Linked DNA regions of Homo sapiens: regions 1, 2, 3, 4, 5 and 6 are each linked to region 7. Evidence: fine-mapped expression QTL. A gene starts in region 7. Each other region holds a variant in brackets. All regions are shown on one strand. Distances are between the middles of the regions.

Region 1 (4,063 bases), 60 kb before region 7:
GAGAACAACATGGTCCATGCTGTTGAGCGGAACAGCTCCCACTCCCAGACAGCACAGAGGAGGCAACAGGCAATGGGTAAAAGCACGTGCCTCGGCTGCGACCTGAAGTATGAGCAGAAGTCTTCCAGATGCAGCAGATGGGGTCGGGGACAGGTGAGGAGAATCCCCAGGAGAGGAAACAAAGCCACACAAAAGCCCAGAGGTGAGGGTGGCTTGAGATTCGGGACAGCAAATAGGAACGGCTGGAACCCCCATGGGGCTGGGACTGTGGCAGGGAGCCTGGAGAGGCCTCTGTCCTGCACACCGTGAGGAGCCATCAGAGGCTTTCCCGAGGATCAGCGCGGTCAGAGGTGCACTTTAGGAAGATGATTCAGCTGCAATGTGGAGGTGAGGTTGGAAGGGACAGAGCTCAAAGAAGGGGAAGCACAGGAGGTCTCCCGGCGTGCAGGCAAGAGGAAGGATGGCCTGGCCTCCTGGGGCAGGGGCACTGGGGAAGGCAAGAGAGGGTGGGATTCGGGAACTGTTAAGAGGCAGCATCAGTGGGGCTTGGGGCTAGAGCAGAGGCGAAGGAAGGAGAACAGCCAAGGAAAACCGTCCTGGGGATCTGGACTGGCTGACAGAGGAGGCTTGGCGGGTCGGTGGGCTGGGGAGCTAAGATTGTCCAACACCCCTCCCAGGCCATGGAACACGGGATTCAGTGTGGCTGGCGGAATCACTGGGTTGGAATATCAAGTGTTAGATCTCAAAGAGACCTAAGGCAGAGTCAGTTCCTGGCGCCATGCTGTATACCCATCCCATCCCCCTTTATGTCACTAAGTGATCATTTCCCGTCTCTTATCCTTCCAGCAGCTTCTTCGCCAGGCACTGCATTAAGCACTGAGAATATAATGAGGAACAAGTCATGCACCTGCCTTCAAGGAGGGGGTCAAGCAAACAGGAAATGCTGACACAGGGCTGAAGGGCTGTGACGGGGACACCCGGGCCCTGTGGGATGACTGAGAGGGACACCCAGTGCAGGCTTGGGAGGCAGGGAAAACTGCCTGAGAGGAGGAAGAGGTACCTAAAGCAAGTACTAAAGCAAGAGAAGGCCAAGTGCAGGGGTGTGGAGGGGAGCGGAAACTTCAGAGATTGAGGCCAAGGGAAGAGCCTGTGAAGTCCCAGACATAGGAGGCAGCTGAGGCCAGAGAAGTCAAGCAACTTGCCCAAGGCCATACAGCTCATGGCAGAAGAGAGAGGAGTCGAGTTCAGTCTCCTATAGATGTGTGCCATGTTCAACAAAAGCCAAAGTTGACAAATGGGATCTAATTAAACTAAAGAGCTCCTGCACAGCAAAAGAAACTACCATCAGAGTGAACAGGCAACCTACAAAATGGGAGAAAATTTTCGCAACCTACTCATCTGACAAAGGGCTAATATCCAGAATCTACAATGAACTCAAACAAATTTACAAGAAAAAAACAAACAACCCCATCAAAAAGTGGGCAAAGGACATGAACAGACACTTCTCAAAAAGTGGGCGAAGGGCCTGAATGTCTTATGCTAGTGCTGTGGGGTTTTCGAAGCTGGGAGCAGAATTTTAGATTTTTCCACATTTCATCCGACTTTTTTTTTTTCATTAAAACCATCCTTCTGTCCTGATGAGGTGTTTTTTGTTTTGTTTTGTTTTGTTTTGAGACAGAGTCTCACTCTGTCGCCCAGGCTGGAGTGCTGTGGTGCAATCTTGGCTCACTGCAACCTCCGCCTCCCGCATTCAAGGAATTCTGCCTCAGCCTCCTGAGTAGCTGGGATTACAGGCATGCGCCACCACGCCTGGCTAATTTTTGTATTTTTAGTACAGACAGGGTTTCACCATATTGGGCGGGCTGGTCTCAAACTCCTGGCCTCGTGATCCACCCGCCTTGGCCTCCCAAAGTGCTGGGATTACAGGTATGAGCCACCAC[G/A]CCTGGCCCCTGATGAGGTTTTTACAAAGTCTGGGATGCTATCACCAAGGTATCAGCTGTTCTCTTTCAGCTTTATGTCATCAGAAAGCCAGGTGAATGTAACTTGTATGCCTCAAATTGGTGCCTTATCAGTGACCTGGACAGCATGTCCACTCAACTCCCTGGGATTTTTTTTGATGAATATTTTTTGGATAATTCGGTTTGAGAACAACCCTCCTTACTATATTGTTAGTAATCCACACATTCCTGGCATGTGCACATAGGGTATCTTGGGGGATTTGGTCAAACACTTTACTGATGTGCTGCCTACAGCTGGCCTGAGCCAGGATATGAGCTTGGCATCAATGCCAAGAGAGGAAGGAGGTTAGTTTGGCTTGACTCAGTCTTAGTGGCCTTCCCACTAGCTTCCTTTCTGAAGATACCTTGCCTATTGGGTTGAAGAATTGTTCTCTAGAACCTACACATTTTGGGGCAGAAGGGACCTTGGAGGTGATTCAAAGTTAATTCTCATTTTTTTGCAGATGAGGAAACGAATGCCCAGAGGGTTTAACTGGCAACTCCCAAAGTCACTGAGTTCATAGGAGGAAGAGCGAGGACTGGATCCCATGTCTACATCTCCAAGTTCAAAGCTCTTTCCTTAACAGTATCACACCATCACACCTTTCTCTAAGCGCACACACACACACACACACACACACACACCTTCCATCAAGACTCTTGTCTGCCAAGACAAACTGAGGCATTATCTTTTTTGGGGGTTCAATGGGGGCCCCACAATTGGCCACTTTCTCTTCCTGAATGGAAAATGGAGGCCCAGGCCCCTCCATGGAATCTGTTCTCCAATAGAGGAGCTTTGGACTCCCCCAGTCTGGACTGATCTTGGGAATCCTGTCTGCTTCGAGGAGACCATTGTCTTTGTGCCTCGTTTGTGCCTGTGGGTGCCTAACACCGGCTCCCTTGGTGGGCGTGGAAGCTGGACTATGGCCTCTAAGCAGCAGATGGAGGTGGGGACACCCCAGAGAACAGTGGGCTCCTTGCCTAGTGGTCAGTGGGGCGGTGGAGGCTTGCTGAGCACTGTGTGAGGAGCAGAGCCCCTGGACGTGCTGCCCAAGGGCCTGGCATTGCGAGGGTATGAGCCCTGCCATGGTAGAAGGCAGAGGCCTGTGGCTGGTCCAGGGAAGGGCAAACTAGGTCGCTCAATGCAGGAGAACTGTGGCAAAAGAGGTGTGCCTGTAGCGGAGGGGACCCAGCGGGGATATCCCTGGTACCCTCGACAGCCCCCAAAGCAGGGCCCCTTCACCACCCTCCCCGCCCCCCTAGGAGGCCCTGGGTACCTGTTTATTCTTTAGGTCAAGGGAGAGTTCGTAATCGGAGGCGGCAGGGGCGTGGGGGCACAGCGCCGTCGCCAGGGCAGGCTGCTGCCGGCCGGGGGAGGCCTTGTGCTGGGGGCCAGCCCTTGGGGAGGCAGCCCCTGCCCCCGGCCGCTCCTCCTCCTCCTGCAGCTCCTGGGCTTGAGCCTTCGGGGCATGGGCACTGGGTCTGCCGGCTGCCACCGCCGCCGCTGCCACCACGGAGTCCTCCATGCCCCCACCGGCCTGGGTGCAGGAGCCATCACTGTGAACAGAAGGCAACGGTGCTCGGTTGGGGGAGAGGGCGACAGGGTGCGTGTGGATGTGGGGGTCGGGGAGAGAAGCTAGGCACTCTGGCCTGCCTTTCCTGTGGCAAGGACTGGAGGGGGTGTCTTTCACAGTCTCCTCTAGGGAGGGGCTACCATGGCAGGGATGAGCCCTGGGCACGGAGAAGAACCCGCACCTGGGGAGGCAGCTCAGACAGAGGGAAGGGGCAGCTATGGCCAGGGCTCAGGAGCCTCTGCTTAGAAGCAGTATGGCAGAGCGGTGCATCTGGGCTCTGCCTCTTACGAGCTGTGTGACCCTGAGCAGGTCACTCAGCCTCATTGCACCTCTGTTTCTCCATCTATAAAATGGGCACAGTAACAGTACCTACCTCACAGGGATACTGGCGGCTGAAGTTACTTACAACTCTTTAAGCTGTGCCTGAGTCATGGTGACTGCTACATGTGTTACCTATTGTAAGTATCGGTGGCCCGGCTCCTTGGGCACAGG
Region 2 (4,051 bases), 74 kb before region 7:
TACCCATCCCAAGCCTGATCCCTACCTAAGGTTAGCCCAGCCCCCAGCCCCCAGCCCAGCTCCCCTCCTCAGCACAGGCTTGCAGCCACTGCTCCAAGCCTCCAGCCCACAGCCCATACACGCAGCCTCCCAGGGAAGAGGGCAATTAGTTTCCATTGTGCGACTCAGCACCACCTGGGCTGCAGGAAAACGCTGTGTTCCCAGCACTCCAGATCAATGTGGGCCTTGCAGGTTAGAATTTAGGGCGCAGGCCACATGGAGACTGGGAAAGACAGAAGAAAACAGACAACAGTCAGGGCCTGTGGGTGAAGCAGAGTCACTCCTGCCCCCAGAGCAGAGAGACAGCAGGGGTGCCTGGGGCTACGGGGCCAGCACCTCACCCTGGCTTGGGAAGGGATGGACTGGGACAACAGTGCAGGAAAGCCAGAGAGATGAGCCAACTAGGGGACACAGAAAAGGAAGGGCGTGAGGAAATGCCATCTCTCCCCTTCTGCAACCTAGATGTATCCTGGATCCCAGTAGCACCTCCATGGGCCCCCACAGCAGTGCTGGGGAAGGGAAGGGAAGCCGGAGGGAGAAGAGAAAGGAGGTGAGAGGGAGGCGCTGCCTAGCATTGTCTCTCTTTCCTCTTTGAGGTCCACAGAGCGTCTCCACCAGCAGCTCCAGGAGGGATGATAAATTGTCAAAAGCCACCAAGAGTCAGGGACAGGAACTCAGTTCTGCCCAGCTGAGGGCTGTGCAGGGATTTCAAGGTACCTGTGCGAACCCCAGCCCTCACTCATTGAACTCAGTCAGAAAACCACCGCGTCAGTGGATTTAGAAATGTGACAGGGATTTCAGAGGGCAATGGGTCCAGCCCTCACAACCCAGCACCACTCTGCAGGCATGGAAACGCAGGCCCAGAGGACAGGGGCTTCTCAATATGGGCACACAGCACCAAGACAGCTCCATAAATAGAAGTGAAATATCCAAGCTCCCACTCCAGGGAAGCTGACCACTGGGTGGATGACTCCCCCAGCGTCCAAACCCTCTCTGGCAGTCCCTTGCTGCTCCAGGAGCGAGGATGAAAGGGAGAGCTCTTCCCAGGGCCTCCGGGGAGACACTTCTGCTGACTGTCCCCAAGGAGAAAGAGGGGAGAGAAATGAGGGAGGGTCCCTGAAGAATGGAGACCTTCAAGAAGGAGGCCAACCTCGGGGACCAGTGGAAGCCAGAAAGAGCACGGGGGCATGGCAGGGGCTGAAGCCGATGTCCCAGGGAAGGAGTAGCTGCAAGGCCCCTCAGCCTCAGAGGAGCGCCAGCCCCGCCCTGCCATTCTGGACAAGGCATGAGTGTGAAGAGACTCTTGCCTGTCCACACTATCAAGGCTGAGCGGGGGCAAAGGCAGCCCCCTGGGGGTCCCCACCCTGCTACTGGACTTTAAAACCATTTTCTTTGGTTTTAAAGAAACAATTTTTCTTTGGTCATGATTTTGTTGGTAGATTTATCTTTATGGAATTGTAGTATTTTCTTGCTCTAAAACCCTCAGTTTAACCCCTTCTTTTTTCTGTCTCACATTTTTGCCTCCAGCGATATGAAAATGAACCTTGGAGAATGGGAGGGTCCTGGGGGAGGGGGGCTGAGGGGCTCTTCACCAGGCAGAGATGAACCCCAGTGCTGACACAAGCCCTTTCCTTTTCCTGGTTTCTCTTGCCCTGGAGAGTGACAGGCAGAAAGGGCTTTTTGTCTCTTTGGACCATTTCTGTATCCCTGCTGCCTCAAACGAAGCCTGGCCTGGGGCGAACTCAATCAATGACTCTGACGGGAGACAGGGCTCCGGCCCACTGGGGTGATGGGCTAAAGAGGGGATTCTGGTTCCTGTGGACAATCTGGAAGCTGGAAGCTGTTAGAACTGGAGCGAGGATTTCACCAAGGAGCTCACAGAGAGAGCCCGGGCAGGTGGGGTGTGGGAAGGAGTGGGGAAAGCCCGGAGTGTGGGGTACTCACTCCAGCACGTCGCGGTTGAACTGCTTCTTGCTGTTGCCCAGGAACTCTCCAATCATCTGGCGGCTGAGGCCCTTTCGCTGGAGGAGGAAATGGGCCACACCGATGGGGGTGTCCGGGATGAAGCCGCGTGAGATCAGGAACTGGATGCCCTTGTCGGGGTTTCTGGAGGTGGGGGTGGGGAGAAGCAGTAGAGAGTGAGCTGAAGCCATCCATGACTCTTTCCTCCCTGTCTTCCACCCATAGAAGTACCCAGAGGTTCTTGGAAATCCAGTTCCCCATTGAAGCTTCTCTCACCAGAGCCTCAACCCACTGAATGTCCTCACGCAGAGGATGGTGTGTGACCAGAAGGAGGACAGGGGAGATCTGCAAACAAAGTGAATTCCAGAGCAGATGGAGGAGAAGTACCCTTCTCTGTCCCTGCCTCCTGGGTCTTACCCCAGTCCTGCCCTTCCCCCTACCCATATCCTGTTGTCAATATGCAGGTCCCCACCGCAGACGCCCCAACCCTG[G/C]AGAGAGGGTGGGAGAAACAGAGGTGAGACCTCCGCCACACCACCTCTTCCCTTTGCAAGCTTTGAAGCCATGCTGCTCCCTGAGCTGTTCCTCACAGGTCCGGGAGGAGATAAGTACAGAAACACAAGGTAAGCACTGAGAACCTCCCATAGCATTTCGACATTTTCCGGGACAGCCAGGCATGTGATTGTCTTTCTAGCACCTCATTTTTATTGTATTTTACAAAAGTATTAGCCCACAATGTATTTTCAGAAGGGTGTGGGGGAACAAAACTGGTTCTTCACTATGGATAGTTTAAGAATTCCTGTCTTGGGGCAGATGAGTGTCTGTATGAGTTTTCATGTGCATGCAGAAGAGACACTGCAGAAGTGGGAGTGGTTCAGAGTCAGATCCGCCTTTCCCTAGGTCTGCCGAGTACTAGCTATTTCATCGTGTGCATTTCGCCTTACTGGTGTGAGCCGGCTTCTTTTCTGTAAAACAGCATGGTAATACCTCTGTGTAGATACTGCTGGAAGATTACAGATGCTTTATGTAAGGTGAGCTATGAACAGTAGCTACTTCCCCTAGAATAGGAGCCTCTTGAGGCCAGGGGATGTGTCCTTCTCACCTCTGTGGTCACAGTGCCTGGCACCCAATAAATAACAGCCGAATGAACGAATGAACACGCATTAGGGCCGGGGAGATGTGCTCTTGGCGCAGGGTTATGAAGGGGCGAGTGGAGGATGGAGGCGAGTGCCTGCCTCCTGGACCTGACATTTCCATGGGAGGGGCAGGTGTGCTTCCTTTCCTCTGCTTGGGACTGGCTGTATACATTCGGTGCAGGACCAGTCCCGGTCTCGCTGGGGTCTCTGAGCTATGGCGGTCGGTCATTTCTCCCCTGTTCTCTTTCTCCTGTGCCTCTGCCTGCTTCACACTCTCTCTTCCTCGTAGCCCTCCCCTCTCCTGCTCTCAGCCGGCATTCTTTACGAGGCGCCTCTCCTCCCTCCCCCACCCAGCCTCGCATTTCACCAACCCTGGGAGCTAATGCGTTTTCCCTGGCTTCATATCCACCCGAATGATTGCTGCGTAATCCTCAAACGGCCTGGACTGTTATTTACTTAATACTGTCTTTTCTTTTACATTCTCTTACTTTTCAAACCCTAGCTTCATCTTAAGCTGTAACAGTTGTGAAAGCATGTGTCTGATGTGTTATTTTTTTCCTTTAATCTTTCTTAAAATAAACTCAGGATGATTAAAATAAAATATGTACTTCCTAAACATGACCTCAGGGATCAGGCACGGCACAGATGCGCCTGCCTGGAGGACCCTGGCATGACGTGGGAAGTTACCTGGCGCCCTGCTTGGTGGAGGGAAGGTGCCCTCCTCCTTCCCTCCCTCCCAGGACGCCCAGGACTCCGGGCTGGGGGCCGGGGCTGACTTACATGTTGAAGAGGTTGAGGCCGATGCGGTAGAGCCGCTTGCGCAGGGTGTCGGTGGAGAGCGTGGGCGACTTGCAGCTGGCTGGGTTCTCGCAGTGGTAGCGCGGCAGGCTCAGGATCATGGCCTGCAGGGCGTCCTT
Region 3 (4,063 bases), 81 kb before region 7:
TCATCCTCTCTAGGAGTCTTCCCTGACCTCCGTTGTCCCCGGAACCCACCTTCTGTCGACCATTGCGTTTATCTCCCTGTGTCATAACATTTGCCTGCCTGTCTTCCCCACGAGGCTACGGGCTCCTTCAAGATAGGGCAGTTATTTTAATCTCTGCCTCCCTGGTGTATGGGCACCCAATCACTGTTTTGTGGGATGAATGAATGAGTGAGTGAGAGATGACCAGGAATGACTGCATGCCGGCAGCTGGAGAAGGAGCCTCAGTGGCCTGTGCCTTTGGAAGTTCTACCCAACGGCCCAGGATTACTCAGCCTGCTTTGCTGCCAAGATTATCTGGAGCTGACACCGAGACCTGTGATGGACTTGCAAATGGCCCCGAGGCTTCCAGACTCCAGGCAGTGAGGCAGTGTGGAGGGCATAGGCCCCCTTCCTCCCACTGCACATGCAAGTGAGTGAGTGCTGAGAACTAGAGCAATGGGCACCGATTAGACCGCTTCCAGCCAGGCATGACCGGACCTGTCTCAGGAGGTGCTGCTGACGGGCGCGTGGATCACGAGTGGTACCGGTTTTGCTAAGGCCTCCCCCTCTTTCCTGTGAGCTTCTGCAAGGTCTGCAGCAAATACCTCACAAGCGTTGGGGAAAAAGGATGTATGTTCCCTGCCTCTGAAGAAACAGGTACAATCTTGCATAAAATTGCTTGTTAACATTGATCTGTGCGTGGAATCAGTTTGTGTTGCAGGGAAATGAAGCGTCCTACACGCCTGTGATCAAAATGAATTTCATCATCTCAACCTTCTTTTTTTTTTTTAATGATAGCAAGACAGTGTCTGGCAGACAAAGGAACTGGTTGGGAGCTGAAAATAGGTAATGGTAGCAGCAGGGATTTTTAATTGGCTGGAAGAGACGGCGAAGATCTGGAAGGTGAAGCCCTAGCTCGTGCTCCTGGCTGAGACTAAGCCCAGGTTTCAGGATTAGGAAGGAAATCTAAACCACCTATTGCCACGGAATGTAGAAACCCTGGCTTTATTTGGCAGTTGTTGGCTTCTACAATTCAATTAAAAATATCCCCATCCTCCAGAGAGTTATTTTATTCGTCAGAATTCATAACATGCTCAACAAAGGTCAAGGCGTTTTGGCAAAGTGCGATGCGGCTAAGAAAATAGAAGAGAAGGAAGCTGATGCAGGATCTGCCAGTGTTCCTGGTGATGTCATGAGGACGAAGAAACTCTCTTTTGAGGGGGCCTGGGTAGGGCTGGCTGCCACTCACACCTTGAGACTCAGGTACCCAAAGAACTAAGTTCAAACTACCCTTACAATTTAGAAGCCCTGAGCTGATTTTTCTTTTGCTGGGCTCGGCAGCATCCCTGTTTGCTGGTGGGTCTCAAACTGAGTGATGCATTGGAATTGCGTGGCGGGTTTATTAGTGCACGGATTGCTGGGCCCCGAGCCGCAGAGTCTGATTCAGTGGGCCTGGAGCGGGAACTGAGAGTTTGCATTGCTAACAAGCTTCCAGGTGAAGCTGACGCTGCTGGTCCAGGGACCACCTTTTGGAAGCACTGCTCTATGCCAATAACAGTGGGTGGATTAAGAAAAGGCCGTGGAGCTGTTACTTCAAGTCATGGAGCCTCTTGGTGGCTCATTTCCTCACCTTGAGAATGGAGACAACACTGAGAACATCTACTGGGCAGGGGTGTTATGAGTGTTAAAGGAGGCAGTGGGTGTGAAGTTCCTGGTATACAACAGGGCTTAATACATGATCATTTTCATTAGGTGTGGGCTGACCCGCCTGTCAGTGGACAGGACCCCTCCCTGCCCCACCGACTAATTCTGCCTGGAATTGTATCATTAGACAGCCATCC[G/A]TCGGCCCTTTAAGATATACATGCACCAGAGAGAGGAAGCTAAATCTGGCTCAGACCTCTTGAGACTTACGAATCAGTTTCTCAGCTGTGCTTTCTTCCCAAATTGAGAGGATCGGGGCATAGCAAATAACGCCAAGGTAAGAGGTGGGAGAGTACCTGATTTTGTTCAATTTCTCTGCCGCTGGCCAGGAGACTAGTCATTTCTTTTCCCCAGGGCCTCAGTTTCTGCCAGGGTAAAATGAGAGGGCTGGACCAGCTGATTGTCTAAGGGGTCTTCAGTGTCATGATTCATGATGGGGGACTGACAAGGACTGTGAGAGCAACCGGACCACAGGGGTCCTGGAATGACGCACGGAGGCTGGATGGTGCAGGGTTAAGGGCTCAGGTGATGAGTCATTGTGCCTGGCTTCAGACCTCAGCCACTGATCAGCTCTGTGACTGTGGGCAAGCTCCCCAACCTCTCTGTTCCTCAGTGCCTTCATTGGGTACAGATTAGCAGCACGTCCCTCCCGGAGTCGCTGTGAAGATGGAACGAGGTTTTGCATGTAAGCCTCTCAGAACAGCACCTGTGGCACACAGCACATGCTGATCTGTGTGAGCTGGCATAATATTTCACGGCCTGCTTGGTCACAAACGGCCCTCCTGGAGATATGACAGCCCTGCCCTGGAGACAGTGACACCCCGGAAGACCCTTCTAGAAGGCCCACGTCCGAGTGGCCTGTTGCAGCCACAGCTATCACACAGAGGAGACTGACTCCTCCAGAGCAAAGGCCTGAGTAGTCAGGGGAGGACTGGGTGGCAGGTAGGTCCATTTTTATATAAAAGTCCAATTTATATGCCAAAGTGACGAAGCCAAAGGGAGTCTCAATCCTGGACTGAAGGTCCCAAGGTCTCCAGCTACAGAAGTAAGTAGGTCTTAAACTCTCACAACTGTTGACTGTTCAGGAGAATCCCTTGTCTATCTGTGGTGGGAGTGGGGCAGGAGAGAGTGGAGAGGTGAAGGGTCAAGGCCATAACCCCAAAGACACCACTTTTGAAGATGTTCTCCTTCCAGCCTTCTGGTGCTGGCAGTGTACCGTTTCCAAAGCAGTGGAAATGACCCTAACTCTTCTATTCCTGCCTGCCTGCACTGGGTCTCTGTCTCTCTCTATCTATCTCTCTCTTTCTTCCTCCTCCCTCCCTCCCTCCCTTCCTCCCACTCTCCTCTCTCTCTCTCTTTCTCTCTTTCTTTCTTCTTTTTTGAGACAGGCTCCCACTCTGTTGTCCAGGCTTCCAGGCTAGAGTGCAGTGGCACGGTCACAACTCACTGCAGTTTCCATCTCCTGGGCTCAAGTGATTCCCCTGCCTTGGCCTCCCGAGTAGCTGGGACCACAGGTGCCCGCCACCACACCTGGCTACTTAAAAAAAATTTTTTTGTAGAGATGAGGTCTCTTTTGCCCAGGCTGGAGTGCAGTGGTGCCGTAAGAGCTCACAGTAGCCCTAACCTCCTAGGTTCAAGTGATTCTGATGCCTTGGCCTCCCAAAGTGCTGCGACCACAGGTGTGAGCCACAATCCCTGCCTGGGCCTCTTTTTATCTCCTCCGGACACATAAGGTCTGCCTGGGCCCCAGCCTGCTCTCCCCTTCCTCATGGGAATTCCTCAGGAATAAGGTAACTGAGATTATACACAGCAATGTGGGCAGGACATTCTCAAATGATTTCTTCCTAGCAATGAAAGGCCAGAGCCTTCCAGACTGTTGAATTTGACAGACAATCTGTCTTCATTTCTAAACGTCCTCTAAGAAGAACAAATCTGTTATACTCTGGCCAACATATTTCCATGGAAATAAAATAATGAAATCTGACCCAAACGTCAAACCCTGATATGTCTTGGAATTTAACAAAGGATGGAGCAGACGCAGTGGAGGGAAGGAACACCCAGGAAGCTTTCTTCCGGCAGCTCAACCCAGAAGCTGCCTTCCTGCATTTCATGGAGATGGTAGACACCAATGCTCTCCACGTGCATGGGATTCACACCAGAAAAAATCATCCAGGCCAGAAAGAGGCCGCTCACAGCCAGCATGGAACGTTCCCCATCCGCTGGACTTTAAACCTGCTGAAGCGAACATTTCAGAAAGGAAATAGAGCAGAGCCAAATTCCCCAGCCATGTGAAAACCGAGAGGGAGAGGCTTCCAGCCCTAGAGGGCCCTAGCTCTGGCTGCTG
Region 4 (4,063 bases), 68 kb before region 7:
TGCGAGTGTTTCCTATTCACAACCAGACATGCCACTTACACGTGGTGTCCTTCCCGAATGAACGAAGAATCGGGATGGGTGCGCTGAGATGAACGACTCAAGGCAAGAACAGGGACGTCCCGTGTTCTCCAGGGATCATGGGTGGGGAGGGTACAGATTGTTCTCCAGGGATCATGGATGGCGAGGGTACAGATAGAAAGGCCATACTTCATCCCTCAGCACAACACTTCAACCTGCTTCCTGCTCCACTGGAGCCCCCAAAGGCTGCAGCCAGAATGAATGCCTGCCTCCCACAGCCCAGCCGTGCCCTCTGCTCCCTCCCTGCAGGGTGTGATGGGTGCCCCATTCCACGCTAGCAGAGGTAGCCTCTTAGCTCAGGACACCTTGTGGATTCAACCCCAATCCCCAAGGACAATCCCAGATAAAATGAGACATCCTTAGTGCTTGCCTCCAGTGCTTCCAGCCTGGCCATTCCCATTCCCCATTCCCAAACCTGGGGACATCATTCTGTCTCCCCCAACATCCAACTCTACCCTTGGAGATCGTTGGAACTCACGCAGATTAATGTGTAAATGGCAACTAAGCCTTCCTATATGGCTTCTCCCAAAGTTACTTGCATTTCATGAGGGACAAGGCCCTGAGCAGGAGGAAGCTCCCAGTGCTATCACAATCCCCCTATTGGAGGGGTCTTCAAGGTGCTCTAAACCACACCAAGTGTATTCCTCATCTATTGCTGTGTAACACATGACCACAAATCCAGCCACTTAAAGTAGCACCTGTTTATTTCTCATGCAGCTCTGTGAATCTAGTCTGGGCACAGCTCATCTGGGTTATCTGCTCGGGATCTCACCAGGCTGAAACCAAGATATCAGTCAGGGCTGCAATATCATCTAAGGTGTGGGGTCCTCCTTTGAGCTCGCTCTTGTTGGCACAATTCAATTCCTTGTAATCACAGGACTTAGGCCCTCAGTCACTAGAGGTTGCCTGCTGTCCCCTACCATGTGGCCTGCTTCATAACCTGATAGCTTGGTCCTTCAAGGCTAACGGCACAGTGTCTGTCTGGGGCTTCAGCTTCATTTATAGGGCTGACCTGATTAGCTCAGACCCACCCTGGGTGATGTTTCTTTTTATTAACTCAAAATCAACCAATTGGTAACCTAATCATTGGAGTGATGTCCCATCACATTCACTCATCCTGCCCATACTCAAGGGAAGGGGATTATATAGGATGTGTACACTAGCATGAAGGGGACTTGGGGGCCATCTGAGAATTTTGCCCACGGTACGAACTGGACACTTCCCCACTTGATCTTTACTAGGTATGACCTCATGCACCCATAAGAGACACAGATACTTGCCTCTGAGGCATTCTGTTCCTGCTCCTGTGGAAATAATGTAGCTTGGCTCATTCTCCCTGCTGAACTTTGACACATTCCCTGAGGCCTGGAATAGGGACTTGGCTTTGGCTCAGGCAGGAAAGTCCTTCCCCAAGGGGAAATGTAGAGAGGAAGGGGAACTGATCACTAAAATGTCTCCTTTTCTCTCAATTTCTGTCTGTCAGCCCTATTCAAGCACCATGAGAAACTGACAGATTTCACATTTCTTTTTTTTTTCTTTGAGATGGAGTCCCGCTCTGTCACCCAGGCTGGAGTGCAGTGGCACGATCTCGGCTCACCATAACCTCCGCCTCCTGGGTTCAAGCGATTCTCCTGCCTCAGCCTCCTGAGTAGCTGGGATTACAGGTGTGCGCCACTGTGCCTGGCTAATTTTTGTATTTTTTT[A/T]AGTAGAGACAGGGTTTTGCCATGTTTGCCAGGCTGGACTTGAACTCCTGGTGCCTTGGTGATCCGCCCACCTTGGCCTCCCAGAGTGCTGGGATTACAGGCGTGAGCCACCGTGCCCGGCCAGATTTCACATTTCTTTCCCGTCTGGCCTATTTATACCCCACCTTGGCCTCCCAAAGTGCTGGGATTACAGGCATGTGCCACTGTGCCTGGCTAACTTTTGTATTTTTTTTAGTAGAGACAGAGTTTTGCTATGTTGGCCAGGCTGGACCTGAACTCCTGGCACCTCGGTGATCCGCCCACCTTGGCCTCCCAAAGTGCTGGGATTACAGGCGTGGGCCACTGCGCCCGGCCAGATTTCACATTTCTTTCCCGTCTGGCCTATTTATACTTCTAGGAAAACCCCAGGCCCAAGAGCATCCTTTTGCAGCACGAGATGCTGTTGGCAACACAGGGAAGGTATGAAATCCATTGCTTGAGATGCTTCCAAAATGGTGATGGGGTCCATGCCCTTGGCATGGTATCATCCTGCTTGAAGGCAGAAGACCAGCTGACATAACCCTAGGAGACTCCGTGTACTACTGGGCAATGTCTATGCTTCACCCAAGCAGGAAAGAAAACCAGATTTTAAATTCTTGCATCTGTCCCATCACATCCTCTACTAGACATCAAGTCCCACGAGGGCAGATTTCACCTGCCGTGGCCACTGCTATCTCCTCCAATGCTTGGACAGTGCCCAGCACATAGTGGGCCTTCAATGAGTGTGTATTCGACAAATTAATTCCAAAGTTATATTTGTGACTCTCAAAAACCTTCCTAATCTGACTCAGCAGACGCTCTCCCGCTCCTGCCTCCTTTGTGTGTTCAGCTCACCCTACACATGCTCTTTTTACTCCCATTTCCTTCGTCCTATCTGCAGCTTTGCACCTGGCCACAGATCTCCCCAGGCTACAGCGTAACTGCTGACTCCGCTGCCGCTGGGGCACTAGCCTGTTCCCTTTCTTCCTATTTTACACTGAACCTCCAGAACAATAACCTCTGCCTCACTCCAGGAGCAAATGCCAGATACTGACCCAACCCTGCCCTAGCCTGTTCCCTTTCTTCCTATTTCACACTGAACCTCCAGAACACTAACCTCTGCCTCACTCCAGGAGCAAATGCCAGATGCTGACCCAACCCTGCCCTAGCCTGTTCCCTTTCTTCCTATTTTACACTGAACCTCCAGAACACTAACCTCTGCCTCACTCCAGGAGCAAATGCCAGATACTGACCCAACCCTGCCCTAGCCTGTTCCCTTTCTTCCTATTTTACACTGAACCTCCAGAACACTAACCTGTGCCTCACTCCAGGAGCAAAGGCCAGATGCTGACCCAACCCTGCCCTGAGCCCTGTGCTCTGGGTCCTGCTGCCTCCCATCTCAGTCAAGGGCGAGAGATGTTAAACTCATCCAAGGCCAACCAGCAAGGAAGAGGCAGATCTGGGGCTTGTCACTCAGCCCCAGGGGCCTCCTCAGCCTCCCTCCTGGCTCCTTTCTGCAACTCTCCCCAGTGCTCATGACTCAGTCTATCCTGGTTGTCCTGTCTCCCTACAACCCCTTAATCCTGTATTCTGGCCACAAAACCCCTACGTGTGCTGATTACGAGTCACATGGGTGCCACTGCCAGTCTCCACACGTTTTAATTTTCCCCGTACACTCTGGACATCATCCACGGCTTCTGTGTTGGACATCATCAGAGGAGCCCGTGATGGGTGATAATTAACAATGAATTAAGAAGGGAGCTGTGTCAGTCAGAGCCTTCCAGGTCACTGTAAACGTGCTCCCCAGGTGGATACCTTCTCAGCCCTGTCTGCCTTCCCTCTGAGGACCCAGTCCACTCTCTTAACTTCTACTTTGATGGGCCAGTGAGCAAGTGGCAAGTAAGGGGAATGGCCAGCCCCAGATCCCAGCTGATTGGACTTGGATGAATTTAACATCTTTGACTCTCAGTTTTCATATCTATTAAGTGGGGTTTATCCTGCTGACCCTGTATCTTCTTGTGAGGATTAAATTATTTCATGGAGCACCCAGCAGAGAGCAGGAGCTTCATAAGTGGTAGCTGCTTAATGGTGACAGTGACAATGATGGGAATGACTCTCAAGCCTCCATACCTAGCCTTGATCCTAGACCCACATTTCCAGCAGCCTGTGTATCCTCTGTCCATCTAGGCTATGCCACTGTTTTCCCTACCTCACCCAAACCAGCTCTTGTTGACTTCCTTATTGGCCTGACAAGCACCCAGCCT
Region 5 (4,063 bases), 100 kb before region 7:
TCACTGGGGTGCAAGAGGACCCAGTGGGAGAGGGGTGGGGCTCACGAGGCTTGTAGGGGCACCTGCACACTCCTCCCATAGGTGGCACTGGGGGGGTTTGGCAGGGACCAGCTGCTGCTGGGTCTTCTGCAGTCCCTCACTGTATGGCATGGAGCCAAATGGGCAGCCTCCCCTCCACCACAGACAGTCTTCAGCTTATCACTTCCCCCAGGACAGCCCTCAGGACAGCCCCACCCTACTCTGTCTCATTTTCTTTTGCACACACATCCCTGCGCCATGGCCAGCTTTCCAGATGGACCAGTTGTTCCGGGGAGGAGTTCCCCCTCCCACCTGCCCCCAAGTCTCAATTCTCCAACCTAGCCCCAGGTGTCCAAGAGGGCAGGGTCTGCCCCAGAAGTGATCGTTTGGGGCCTAAGGGGTAATTCTCCGAGGGAGCCCAGGCTCCCCGCTATGGATGGTGGGAGGACTTGGGGAACGGGATGTGGGGTCTTCTGATACAGCAAGTACTGGGGGAGCAGTGAGCAGTGAGCATTTGCTGGGGAGGTGGATTTGGGGGCACACAGGAAGGATGGCCCTAGGGTGCCGTGAGCTCCGTCTCCACTGTGTTAGTCTGGGAGCTCGGCCTCGGAGGGCAGCAGGCTGGGGAAAGGGGAGAAAGAGCTCGTGGCTTAATTAGGCGCTGGAACAGTGGCATTACCCATGCTAGCAGTAACTTTTAATTGTATCTCTTGAAATTGGTAAAATGGTGAGTCGGGCTGGGGAGGCATTGATTAATACCTGAGAAGAGAAACAACAGAGACGGTGAGAAGAAGAACAAGGGGGCAGGGTAGTCACTCACCTGGGCAACCAGGGCTCCACTTACCTCCACCGTGCTCTCCGCCGGCCTCTCCCTGAGCGCGGCTTCCCTTTTGGCTTTGAATGCAAAGAGCACAGGGCTCATTCTCCACCGGCTGAGCCAAGCCCCTGCCCCTCCCCTGTGCCCCTCAAGCATCTCTGCAGCTAAGACTTGGGGTCACACTGCTCCTCACTGAGGCGGAGGTTGGGAGCCCCACTCTGCCACTTAGGAGCTATGTGACCTGGGCGAGATGCTACATCTCTCTGGGCTGCCGCAGACTAGAAGATCGCTGCCGCTCTTTCTGATGTTGGCATTGTGGAATCTGATTTACCCACAGTCAAAGCCTTCCCAGTACGAACTGTAAAAGGCTTGGAGGGGGCCTGGGTTGTGGGCGCCACGTTCATCAGCCTCCGTGGATCACAGGCTCCTTGAGCGTGGGCCACGCTTCTTTGCTCCAGCCCTGCAGACTGGCTGAGGGGGCAGGACTGAATGGGCTGAGGCCTGCACAGCACTCACCGCAGTGCCGGGCACGGTGAGAGCCGATAACTGCTCTGTAATTACTCTGAGGGCCTTCTGGCCGGCCTGGCACAGCAGCAGGGGCCCTGCGGACCCCCACGGACAGCTCATTGGCTCTTTGTGGCTGAGTCACTCCCAGCTTCCACCCCGACCCCCGCAGGAGCCCCTCTCATTTCCCAACCCCTGGGGGTGCCAGCTTCCCCCTGCTGTGCTCAGCCCTCTGCTTCCTGCAGCAGGAGAGGGAGCTGCACCATTGTTTGGGAATGAGAAAGACCCCGCTGTGGAGGGGACTAAGGGACACGTCCCTGGGGACAGGCATCTGGGCCTAACCAGGGCGGGCAGCTTCCAAAAGAGAGGCAGGAAGGAATGGCAGGGAATGACACACAGCTGAGGGCTGGCTCTGGGGTTCCACAGCTGAGAAAACAAAAGCAGCAACCCGTGCCCTATGACCTTATAGAAATGAAGAGGCCAGTGGAGATCAGGCAGCGTGGAGAATTACGGACGCACGATGGCAGGTCAAACCCATACAGGAAAGATTCCATCACAGAATCTCCACATAGCGAAAAGAGCCCCATGTCCTGCTTGGAAAGTGAATCTCATGTCCTCGCTGCCGTAACTAGTCCCCACGCTGCTGCCTGTTCCAAGTCAGGACTCAGGGCCGACTGTGGCGGGTCATGGACCACACGGGGCCCACTG[G/C]AGCTTCTCAGCTCAAGCTGGCGTCTCACTATGACCCTGGCTTTCCAGTGTTCTGCACAGGGCAGCAGCCATTCGAGAAGTGTTTGTTGAGTGTGAGAGTAAGTGACCGAGTTAACTAATGGGTGGACAGTTGTGAATGGCTTGCTGGGATTTCACTGGGATGAGACTGAATTCTCATGCATCTCCCCTCATGCTCTTTATTTGGGGCTGGTGGAGGGAGGTGGTGGAAACCTTTCCTGGCCCCCTGCAGGTGGGGTAAGGTTGGGGCAGGCCAAAGGAGGGGCCAGCTCTGGAGCCAGTGTGACTCGGCTGGAGTGAGCAATTCCACTGGAGAAACCACTAGAGAAGTGGAGTTTGAGGGTCTCTCTGGATTTGGGGTGGGCTGACCTGAGCCAGGGGTCAGGAAGTGCTTGTGGCTCATTAGAGAAGGGACTGTACAGAGAAGAGCAAGATCCAGATCCTTCTGGTCACCCTGCCCTCTTACACTGCCTGGTTGGAGAGTGTTCCTCGTGGGGCTTCTCTTGACCTCGCCTCGTCCAGACAGCCTGGCTGCAGGAGGGAAGGCCTCCCTGCAGGGGCCAGGATGCCAGGACTCTTGCCTGACTCCTCCAGGGCAGACAGTGACATCTCACACGGACTCCAGACCTCTGGTGCAGTTTGCAAAATGGACAGACACATTTCTCTCTCGCCTTCCTCCTCACTCCCACCACTAAAGCTCATGAGATTAAAGAAGGCAAGCCTGGCGCTCCTCAGCAGGAAGAAACACGCCACGGGAATGGGCACCTCTCCCTGCAGATTGCCCAGGACCCACACCCAGGGTCCCCGAGTGGCCTCCATGGGGACTGGTGCCCTGAGCGGAGCCGAGGCTCACCTGTCGGCGATCCTTGCTTTGACTGTGGGTCCCCCTGGGCTCCGCAGGGCTTGAAGGAGAGTGTCTTTGTTCCCTGCTGCTTCTCCAGCTCCCCTAAGGAATGCAGAGGCCCGTGAGCAAGAGAAACCTTAACCTCAACCACACAGAGGCGAGGCAGGAAATGAGGGGCCAGCAGAAAGGGGAGGAAGAGGAGGAGAGGTCCCAGTACATGCTGTGAAACACGGACCTCGGGTCTGGCCCCACCACTGAATAGCAAGTTAAATACCCCCTCGGAGCCGCAGTTTCGTCATCTGTACATGGGGATGATCCTATCTGCTTGAACGTCAGAGAGGCACAGAAGAGGCCGATGTGAGGGAGGTGAACTGCCTGGGTTTGGGTCCTGGTCCTGACACTCCCTGGCTGTGTGGTTTTAGGCAAGTTACCCAACCTCTCCATGCCTCACTCGAGAGGACAGCCAGGCCCACTTCACGGTGTCATTAAGAGGACTGCGTGGGAGATACACATAAAGCACAAGGCCTGGCTAGTGACCTGTACTCCTTAAGTATTAAGGTTTGTGCGAAAGTAATGGCAAAAACCGCAATTACTTTAGCACCAACCTGTATCAGTTTTGTTACATTGTGTGAAACGCACTTGGCACAGCAGAGCCTGCTGACAGGGGTGACACCCACCTCTCCACCCGGCGCCTGGGAGGACGGAGCCTGCCTGGGAGGACAGAGCCTGCCTGGCCAGCTGAGCCTCCGCAAGGTGTTCAAATCTCTCCCAAGGAGGAAAGTCCACACCGAGGGTGTGGAAGCTACAAGCCTGCAGTGCTAGGACATCTGTCTAGGTACTCAACTTTAATTCCTCTCACTGGATTGGAAACCTGTTCCTTCTTGTTCTTCTCTCAGTGGAGCTACAGAACTGCCGGCTGCCATCCTTGGAGATTTGACATGATTATTAAATCACTCCTCCCGCTTCTCTTTTCCAGGAGACATAACTCAAGTTCCTTTTATTAAAGCTACTCTCCTGGGCTCCATTTTCAGTCTCTCTGGTTGTCTAGAAACCAGGGACACTGAACCGTAGGCCCCCAAACCAGAACAATTTGTCCTGGTTGCCTAAATCACACCATCCCATCGATCAATGCTAAATATTTCTACTCAACTGAG
Region 6 (4,063 bases), 96 kb before region 7:
TTAACTCCAGTCACTCTCTGTACTATCACCTGGTTTGTGGCCTTCATAGTGCCTTCCCCCAATCTGATATTATCTTGTTTGTCTGTTTCTTAATTATTTTCTATCTCCCTCCCCTACTAAAATGAAAGCTCGTTTTAGTAAAGTCATCTGGTTGCTTAATAAACAAATTTCTATTCAGCAGCTTCTGTGAGCTGAGCCCTGGAGATACAGGAGAACTCAGGACAGAGCCCCTGCCCTTAAGGTGCTTATGGAATGTGGAGTGTCACAGTGTCCATCAGGTGATCAAACAATAAAGCATAACAGCAAAAAAACAAAACCAAAGTGCTACGTGTTTTGAAGAAAATGAAACAGGGTAAGGAATCAAAAGTGATTTGAGACTTGAATGAAAAGGAGGAGGCCAGGAAGGCAAGAGGAGAGTGCAAGGTCTGGAGGAGCTTTGCAAGAAGGAGCAGCAAGTACAAAGGCCTGGCCCACAGGAGGGAGGCGCCTCCCAGGGCTGAGGAGAGGGCGGGGAGGCAGGTTAGGGAAAGGGGACACGTGGCCTGATGTGCACTCCAGAGAGATCACGCTGCTGCTCTCAGGGGGGTGGGGAGAGCCGTGTGGAGGCTGATGTGGTTCACTGAATGTACCAGGCGTGCACTAAGACTGTAGTAGTGGAGGTGGTGAGAGGTGGTTCAGGCTTGTGATCACTTTGGAGGCAGTGCCAACGTGGCTCATGGATAGAGAGGGCCGGTGCGAGGGAGACACAAGCCCTGCTCCAGTCCTGCTCACCAGTTTTCCAGACCTACAATGATGCCTGGCACATGGTCAACGCTGATCAAATATTTGTTGAATGGATACTTCTTTTCAAAGAGCAAAAAAAGTATCTGTGGGTACAGATGTGTGTATGTGTGTGCACGCACACACACACACCAGCCTCGCCTAGGCCCAGGGACAGAGCATGCTCCGCCTAGGCCCTGCTCCTCCCAGGCCCTGGGGTCTGAGGCACAGCCCTGTGCACTCCCTGTCCTGGGCTTCCTGTAACGTGGAGAGGCCAGTGGTCTGGGAACTAGTTCGTTAACAGTTTGTGCAACCACGAGCAGATCATCTGACGTCTCGGTGTCATGACTTATGAGGTAGGAATTAGCATGTCTGCCTGAGCCCCCTCACGCCCACGGTGTGAAAGCACCATGAAGGCAGATCCGTCCCACGGAACAGGCATTCTGTCTGAAAGCTCTGGGCGTCCTTTCCTGCCCACTTCAGGGACCCTGCCCAGGCTGACCAGGGCGGCAGAGGCAGCCCCAGCCCAGCCCAGTCCCGGAGCGGAGGCCACTCACCACCAGCAGGTCATTGAAGAGGAACACCTCCCTCTGATGCGCTGCCTGCTTCTGCAGCTTGTTCACATCCGTCACCTCGAAGAGCCGGCTGCAGCACACCAGGCGGCGGTGGGGCACGGACAGCACCTGCACGCGGGCAGGGCGCTCAGCGGGAGAGACCAGAGGCCTGGAGGCCTCCCCACCCACGCGCCCATTTTCCAGAAGAGGAGACAGCCCGGGAGAGGGGAGGGGCCCGGTTCTGTGGAGGGAGGAGAGGGGAGGGGTCCGGTTCTGTGGAGGGAGGAGAGGGGAGGGGTCCGGTTCTGTGGAGGGAGGGGAGGGGAGGGGTCCGGTTCTGTGGAGGGAGGGGAGGGGAGGGGTCCGGTTCTGTGGAGGGAGGGGAGGGGAGGGGTCCGGTTCTGTGGAGGGGGAGGGGAGGGCTCCGGTTCTGTGGAGGGAGGAGAGGGGAGGGGTTCGGTTTTGTGGAGAGGGAGGGGAGGGGCTCCGGTTCTGTCCTGGGGCCTGGACTTGACTCTCATCCTTCTCTCTCCTCGTCTGAGGCTCTTTCCCTCGCACGTTCACCCCCTGTCCCAGGGCTCATCCCTGTCATGCTTCTTGGGGAGCACGGCCAGAGAAGGGGCCCACTGAGCCACAGTAAATGAGGGGATAGAGGGACAGGAATAGGAAATTGAGAAGAGCTTGCAGGCTGTTCCAGTCCAGCCACTGTCAACCTGCTTCCCTCCGTAACCTTGAGGGCATCCCCTGCCCCAGGCTGCGGCCTGCAGATATGACACCTCCACCCTTTCTATACTGCAGAGATGCAGGTGTGCGAGAGCGAAGGGATCACAGAGACACCTGGCATCTACTCCAGCGTGTAAGACAAACCAGTCGCTTGCAACCCGACAGATGCTGAGACCTCAGCAATAAAGGCTCTCAAAGCAGAAAAGCCTGTCCCTGCACAGACTGGGAGGAGGGAGCCCAGTGCAGGGCCTCAGAAGAG[A/G]TCTCCAAACTCTCCCACACCGTCCCCTGAGGCAAGAATATGAGGAGGAGGAACTGGAACCCCCATGACATCCTTTATAGTATAAAGTGTAGTAGCCTACAGAGAAGTCCCACTTTAAAAATCATGGCAGGCTTGGAACATGCTGCCTGGGACACAGGTCACTACCAATAGGACAAATCTATGGTGATGCCACAGCCTGGAGCCTATTGAGCCCATTTCCTGCCTTCCACTCATCAGGACCATCCAGGAATGCCTGGTAGTCATGCTGTCCTAGGAAAGGGATACTAAATCTCATCTGGCCACCCAGATGCTTCCACCCTAGACCACTGGGCAGTCCTTCCTGACATCTCATCTCCGTCTCTCCTGCTGCAGTATCGGGTGGCAAGAGGCAATGAGGAAATCAGGCAAGAAAAAAAAAAAGAGATGCAGTGTCTGGCACACAGTAGGTACTTCATAACTATCATGTGAATGAATATGAAAAAAGAGTTTTGGAAAGGTAAGAAGGAGAATGGGAAGAGATGCCAGGAAGAAAGAAAGGAAAGGAGACGGGAGATAGGTAGCTTGTGGACACTCACTGTCTTCATGCCCACAATGGACTTCTCCACCTTGGTGACGTACGTGACGTGGTCCTCATTGGACTTGAGCTCCTTCTGCTGTATCCTCTCATAGATGCCTACCACCAGCTCCCTGGGGATGTCAGCGCCATCGTCCACACCTAACAACGTGGAGTGGGCAGGGGTGGTGGTGGGGTTGGGAGGGAGGGTGTCAGAGCCCTGGAGCCAGACAGAAGAGACCCCCATCCAGCCTGGAGCTCCCGGGGGGTGGCCTTGGTTCTTGCCATGCCTTCAATGGCTGGTGCCTCATACCCATTCAATTAAGAACAAGTTCCTTAGCCAGGCACCAAAACTAATGATATGGCCCCAACACACATCTCCTGCCTCACCTCCTGATGTTCCCCAACCAGAGTCTTCACGCCCACCTCCCAGGCCTCTTTCCTGATGGCAGATACAGCCTCCATGTTCCTGCTAACCCTGTGCGCCTCTGCAGTTCTGTCGTCTTCCTTGTGTTCGTCTCACCCCCCAGCTCCACCCCACCACTCCAGCATCATAAGGAGCTTCTGTTTCGTTCTCTTTTGGATCTTCCTCCTGCTGGGCTCTCCTCTCCCCTCCAGTAGGGAGCATGGCATTGAGGGCTTAGTCTTTGAAGAGATTCCTCCCTCACTGGGAGCAGTGGGGGAGCAGGCAGACCCCTGGCAATGCAGGCGAGGACACCCCTGTCCCACCTCCTGCTTCATAGTAATGATAAAACTCGGGCAACAAAAAAACACTGGCAGGAAATATGCCAACAAGAAAACACGTTTCTTTTGGAGAAACAGGCGATTAAAATATCTTCTTTCTACTATTTCCAAATCTTTCTTTAATGACTATACGCTTCTTTTATAAGAGGGAAAAATTAAAAATAAAACAACTTTGGCAAGCATCTCTCAAAGGAGTGTTCCCAGCTACTGAAAGGACACCCCGCCTTCCACACGCAGCTCCCGGCCTGCTCTGGTCTCTTCCACGTCTGATCTTGGTTCTCGAAGTCAGGCAAATGAGCCATGCAGCAGCCAAGGAGGCTGAAAGAAATCAGGCGGCGGGTGAGAAAAACCAAGGAGAAAGGCTGAGTGTATGGATGCCCCCAGTTCAAGGTGGCAGGCTGCATGCCTCTGCTGCTTCTGAATACTCGGGAGAAAGGAATCTTTTAGAAAAGCATACACCCACAAAGACAG
Region 7 (4,063 bases):
CTAACCCAACTTCTCTAACTCTACCACAGATGGTAAAAGAAAATGAGTTTTGAAGGAATACAGCAAATATTCACAAGTATCTCCCAGACTTAATGCACCTGGATGAAGATGAGATTCTCAGCTCTACTTCCCCCTCCCCATTCCCTTATGCATCACCATTGTCAAGGTCAGGTGCTGACCAGGGACAATTTCCCTTGAACTGTTCTTTGTTTAGTTCTCCATCACTTGCCTAATCAGAGAAAAGAAGCAGACATGGCCACAGCCTTTCCAGTACAGAGGAGAGAACATCCCAGACACTTTCATATCTTCTTCCCATATTCCTAGTTCATGGACCTCCTGAGTGAAGAAAGAGCTTGAAGTTCTAGGAACTGAGAGGTTAACATTTCTCTCAGGACCCAAGGCAAGATTTCAGTGATCACCAGATAACCGGGAAAAAAGGGTTTGCAGTTGCTGGCCTTAACAGGGAGATTTAAACAGGCATGGCATCTGAATACCAACTCCATCTGCCAACTGTCCCCCATGTCATTGCTCCCTTTCAACAACGGCCAAACACCCTGTATGAAAAACCCTCCTTGAGTTGGAGGAAAAAGCTGTAACCAGACTGAGTCCTCAAGCCATGCCTGAGTCCTCCATTGGTTTGATGGGATGTTCCCTTGCACCTCTTCGGCTCTGCGGGAATTCAGAGGAAGGGTGTCCAATCAGGTCAGAGAAGAGAAAGCTTCCCTAAATGAGCCACTCCTAGCTGTGGCTCCCACTTCACCAGCTAAAGAGCCACATTTTCTCTTCCTCTGCCTCCAGCTCCCTTGGTTTCCCACATCACTCCTGCTTTTCAGGTTTGTCCCCGGCCTCCTGGATTCCCCTCTACCCCAGTCCTACTCTTCCTGGGCCCCAGCCTTTTTAAAGCTCTTCACATGCCTCTTTCCAAGCCTTCAGCTTTTCTCACATCTCAGTCTCCATGCAAATACTTTTACTACCCAAACTTCCTTCCAAATTTTTTCTCACTTAAAAAGATTCCTTCAATGGTTCTCTTTTCTACAGTTTAATCTTCACTCGAACTTCAACCCAGCCTAACCCCGTTTAAATGCTGTCAGTTCCCAGTATCACCAATCGCTTAACACCCACCTCCTTCCTCCTTTGCTCCTACTAATGGTCTGGTTACTCCTTTTTGCTCCAGCATTCCCCAAAACCTTCTCAAGCAGGGATATCGTTCCCTCATTTACCCAAAATCTCCTTTGCACACTTCTGGCGCCTTCAGGCCACATCACTCCGGTCCTTTAGACTCCTACGCACCCAACGTCCCCGTCTCTCCCTCACACCCACTTGCTTCCCTTGCTCCCACCACAACAGTGCCCATCTCCTCTCCCCGCTCACTCAGGTCTCCTGCTCAGGACGCCCTTGCCGAGGGCGGAGGGGGATTTGTGCTGAAGGAGGGCTCCGGCAGCAGCGCAGCAACTCGGGGGACGCTCCTTCTCCTTGTCAGTCACGGCCCCTTGTGTCCCCAGATGCTTGTGGGGCGACTGGGGTGTGTGAGCCCTGCTGCCAGGGCCCCGCTGGGGCTGCTCCAGGAGCTGTCCGTGGTGCTGACGCGGCGGCCGATCGGGCGCGGGATGCGGCGCGGCTGCTGAGCGCTGTCCCTGGTCCTGGAGAGGTTCCTGGGCCCTGGCGGCGGCGGCAGGAGCGGTGGCCGGAGCGGCCGGCAGCGGGGCCGATGACGGGGGGACGAGCCCGGGCGGAGGCTGGGCTTGCAGCAGCTGCTGGTGCTCCCACAGGCTGCGGTTCTCAGCGCTCAGCTCGTCCAGCCGCCGCTCCAGCTCGTCGATACGCTCTCGCTGGGTGTGGATGAGGCTCTGCTGGTTCTGCACGATGGCCGTGAGCTCCTTGAGGTAGAGCACGGCGCGCACCGGATTCTCCAGCAGGCTCTCCATGCCGCCCGCCGCCGCCTGCGCCCTGCCTGCGCCTGGGCTGGCGGCGGGGAGCGCGAGGGCGCGGGAGCCCAGCAGCCCAGCGGTCGGCTCGCCTCCCTCTCCCACCGGCCCAGCCTCCCTCCCCCCGCCGGCGCCGCGTCACTGCCACCCCGACCTTCACACACGCATCGCGGGGCGGGGCGGCTGCGCAAGGCCCCACCCCCACCCCACCCCCTACCTCCAGACCTCCCCAACTCCTCGCCTCCCCACCTCGCTGCCTCTTGGCGTCAGCGAAGGCTCTGCTGCCTGCAGGGCAGAGAGGAGAGGGAGGAGGCCAGCGAGAGGGAGCCTCTGTCGGGGCGTGGGAGGAAAGCAAGATAACGCAGGCGACCCGAGAAGGACGGTGAATCTGACTGGCCAGACTGGGAAGTAGGCGAAGGGGAAGCAGCGATACTGGGAAGGTGCGGTGGGACCTGTAGGAGAAGAGAAACAGAAAAGAAAGGAAGAGAAGGGGAGAGGCCAGCAGAGAGGAAGCAGAAAAAGGGAAGGTGGGGCCAAGAAAGAGAAATGTGCTGGAGGACAGGAAGGCGTGGGGCCCTGAAGGGACGCGAATTCTTTTTTCCCAGGTCCAGGCCTTCCAGAGGCTGGGGTTCATCTAGAGACCTGCTGAGGAGGGGCCACACTCGCCTCTTTTGCTCGCAGCAATCTATTCTGCCAGGGGATTCCCTGGAACACAAGAATCCTGGGGCTCTAAGGGACCCTAAAGAGCGTCTGGTCCTGCTCCTTCCTTCATCCGTGACGAAACTTGGGATGGGAAGGCTGTTCATGCTGGGTTTCCTCTGGGAGTGAGACCTCAAGACAACTGTGGCAGTTCCTGATAGAAACACTAAATAAACGAGGTCCTCTGTGGCAAGGGCTAACGCTTCCAGAAGCTTCTGAATAGATCATTCTATTTGACAAACAGTTATAAAATGCACACTATTACCAAACACTGTGCTAGATGGTGGTAAGAGAAGCATGACTAGAATGGAATGTTAGGCTTTTTGAAGCTTATAAATAAGTGGGTGAAATTGGTCATGATTAACTTTGACGTATGATAGTGGTGGTGAGTAATCAGGCAGAGGTTTGCCCAGAGTGCTATAGGAGCCAGCAGCTTGGAGATCCAGGGAGGCTTCTTACAGGAAGTGACCCTTGGTGTGGGAAGGGTTTTCCATAAAGGGAAGACAGCATGAGCAAAAGCTCAGAGACATTAATCAGCACCGATTGAATCATTCATTCATGTCTACAATAATCACCACTCACTAGGTGCAAAGTAATGTACAGAATCTATGCAAGCCACATCTAGCATAGATAATAAGTTATCATTTCTATAATCAAGTTGATTCCAATCTCATAGAGTAGATATGCCATGCACATGAATAAGTAAAACACAACTCAAGATTTCTGTAAGAGCTCTTCAAGCCAAGTGCCATAGAGTTCAGGGGAGGGAGAGGATTCATTTGACTGTGTTGATCTGATAAGTTCTGACAGAGGTGTTACTCAAGTTGGGCCACGAAGAATGGGAAATATTTCAACAGGTAGACAGAACAGGGGGCCAGATATGAGAAAGATACATCAGGCAGCAGGGAAAAAACTAATGAATGGAAATAGAGCACTTGGTTTAAATTAATTTGGCAGGGAAATATCCCTTTCCTTTTCTTTTCCTTTACTTTTTTTTTTTTTTAAAGTCTTGTCTGTCACCGAGGCTGGAGTGCAGTGGCAGGATCATAGCTTACTCCATCCTTGACCTCCTGGGATCAAGGAATCCTCTAGCCTCAGCTTCCTGAGTAGGTGGGACTACAGATGCATACCACCATGCCCCGTGAAGGAAATGAGTTGTTCTTTCCTCTTTTATAGGAATGGGATGGGAAGGAGGAAGGGCTATGAGTACGCTTCGCATGTTTGTTATTGTGTTGTTCCGTTCTTCACACACATGTCCATCAGGCTCCCTGTCAACCTTCCATTCCCCCAGGGTAGGCATATTTATGGGTACCATGTGCCCAGTGAGCTGGCCCACCCCCCACCACCACGTGGTGCCAGACTTGAATGACCTTATGAGAAGGAACTTGTGCTCTGCACATATATTGGTTTATCTGCATTCCTGATGTGTTTTTATTTTG

What was found.
Region 1: its variant is fine-mapped to the expression of IQSEC3 in whole blood (TOPMed, PIP above 0.99).
Region 2: its variant is fine-mapped to the expression of IQSEC3 in whole blood (TOPMed, PIP above 0.99). The same link has a PIP of 0.9 or more in T cells.
Region 3: its variant is fine-mapped to the expression of IQSEC3 in lung (TOPMed, PIP above 0.99).
Region 4: its variant is fine-mapped to the expression of IQSEC3 in subcutaneous fat (GTEx, PIP above 0.99).
Region 5: its variant is fine-mapped to the expression of IQSEC3 in lung (TOPMed, PIP 0.98).
Region 6: its variant is fine-mapped to the expression of IQSEC3 in testis (GTEx, PIP above 0.99).

What each region holds. Positions count from the first base shown.
Region 1 is chr12:125,124-129,186 of GRCh38, reverse strand. IQSEC3 (IQ motif and Sec7 domain ArfGEF 3) reads right to left here. Exons shown (of 14, transcript NM_001170738.2): 3 at 3,275-3,554. Among named protein-coding and RNA genes, the nearest start is that of IQSEC3-AS2, 15 kb to the right of the region's middle. The variant G/A (reference allele first, on the strand shown) is at 1,941.
Region 2 is chr12:139,218-143,268 of GRCh38, reverse strand. IQSEC3 (IQ motif and Sec7 domain ArfGEF 3) reads right to left here. Exons shown (of 14, transcript NM_001170738.2): 4 at 3,915-4,051; 5 at 1,984-2,145. IQSEC3-AS3 (IQSEC3 antisense RNA 3) reads left to right here. Exons shown (of 10, transcript NR_033859.2): 3 at 1-30; 4 at 636-1,935; 5 at 2,025-2,357; 6 at 2,466-2,621; 7 at 2,899-3,029. Among named protein-coding and RNA genes, the nearest start is that of IQSEC3-AS3, 7.9 kb to the left of the region's middle. The variant G/C (reference allele first, on the strand shown) is at 2,493.
Region 3 is chr12:145,691-149,753 of GRCh38, reverse strand. The region is part of intron 5 of IQSEC3 (IQ motif and Sec7 domain ArfGEF 3); the gene reads right to left. It overlaps IQSEC3-AS3 (IQSEC3 antisense RNA 3), which reads left to right and starts at 585. Exons shown (of 10, transcript NR_033859.2): 1 at 585-675. RefSeq lists an enhancer at 3,588-4,063. The variant G/A (reference allele first, on the strand shown) is at 1,860.
Region 4 is chr12:132,684-136,746 of GRCh38, reverse strand. The region is part of intron 3 of IQSEC3 (IQ motif and Sec7 domain ArfGEF 3); the gene reads right to left. Among named protein-coding and RNA genes, the nearest start is that of IQSEC3-AS3, 14 kb to the left of the region's middle. The variant A/T (reference allele first, on the strand shown) is at 1,782.
Region 5 is chr12:167,961-172,023 of GRCh38, reverse strand. IQSEC3 (IQ motif and Sec7 domain ArfGEF 3) reads right to left here. Exons shown (of 14, transcript NM_001170738.2): 12 at 2,919-3,011; 13 at 863-912. The region is part of intron 1 of IQSEC3-AS1 (IQSEC3 antisense RNA 1); the gene reads left to right. Among named protein-coding and RNA genes, the nearest start is that of IQSEC3-AS1, 12 kb to the left of the region's middle. RefSeq lists a silencer at 3,213-3,686. The variant G/C (reference allele first, on the strand shown) is at 2,048.
Region 6 is chr12:160,873-164,935 of GRCh38, reverse strand. IQSEC3 (IQ motif and Sec7 domain ArfGEF 3) reads right to left here. Exons shown (of 14, transcript NM_001170738.2): 8 at 2,871-3,010; 9 at 1,317-1,442. IQSEC3-AS1 (IQSEC3 antisense RNA 1) reads left to right here. Exons shown (of 3, transcript NR_183431.1): 3 at 179-316. Among named protein-coding and RNA genes, the nearest start is that of IQSEC3-AS3, 14 kb to the right of the region's middle. The variant A/G (reference allele first, on the strand shown) is at 2,296.
Region 7 is chr12:64,745-68,807 of GRCh38, reverse strand. IQSEC3 (IQ motif and Sec7 domain ArfGEF 3) reads right to left here and starts at 2,041. Exons shown (of 14, transcript NM_001170738.2): 1 at 1,372-2,041. The coding sequence starts at 1,925.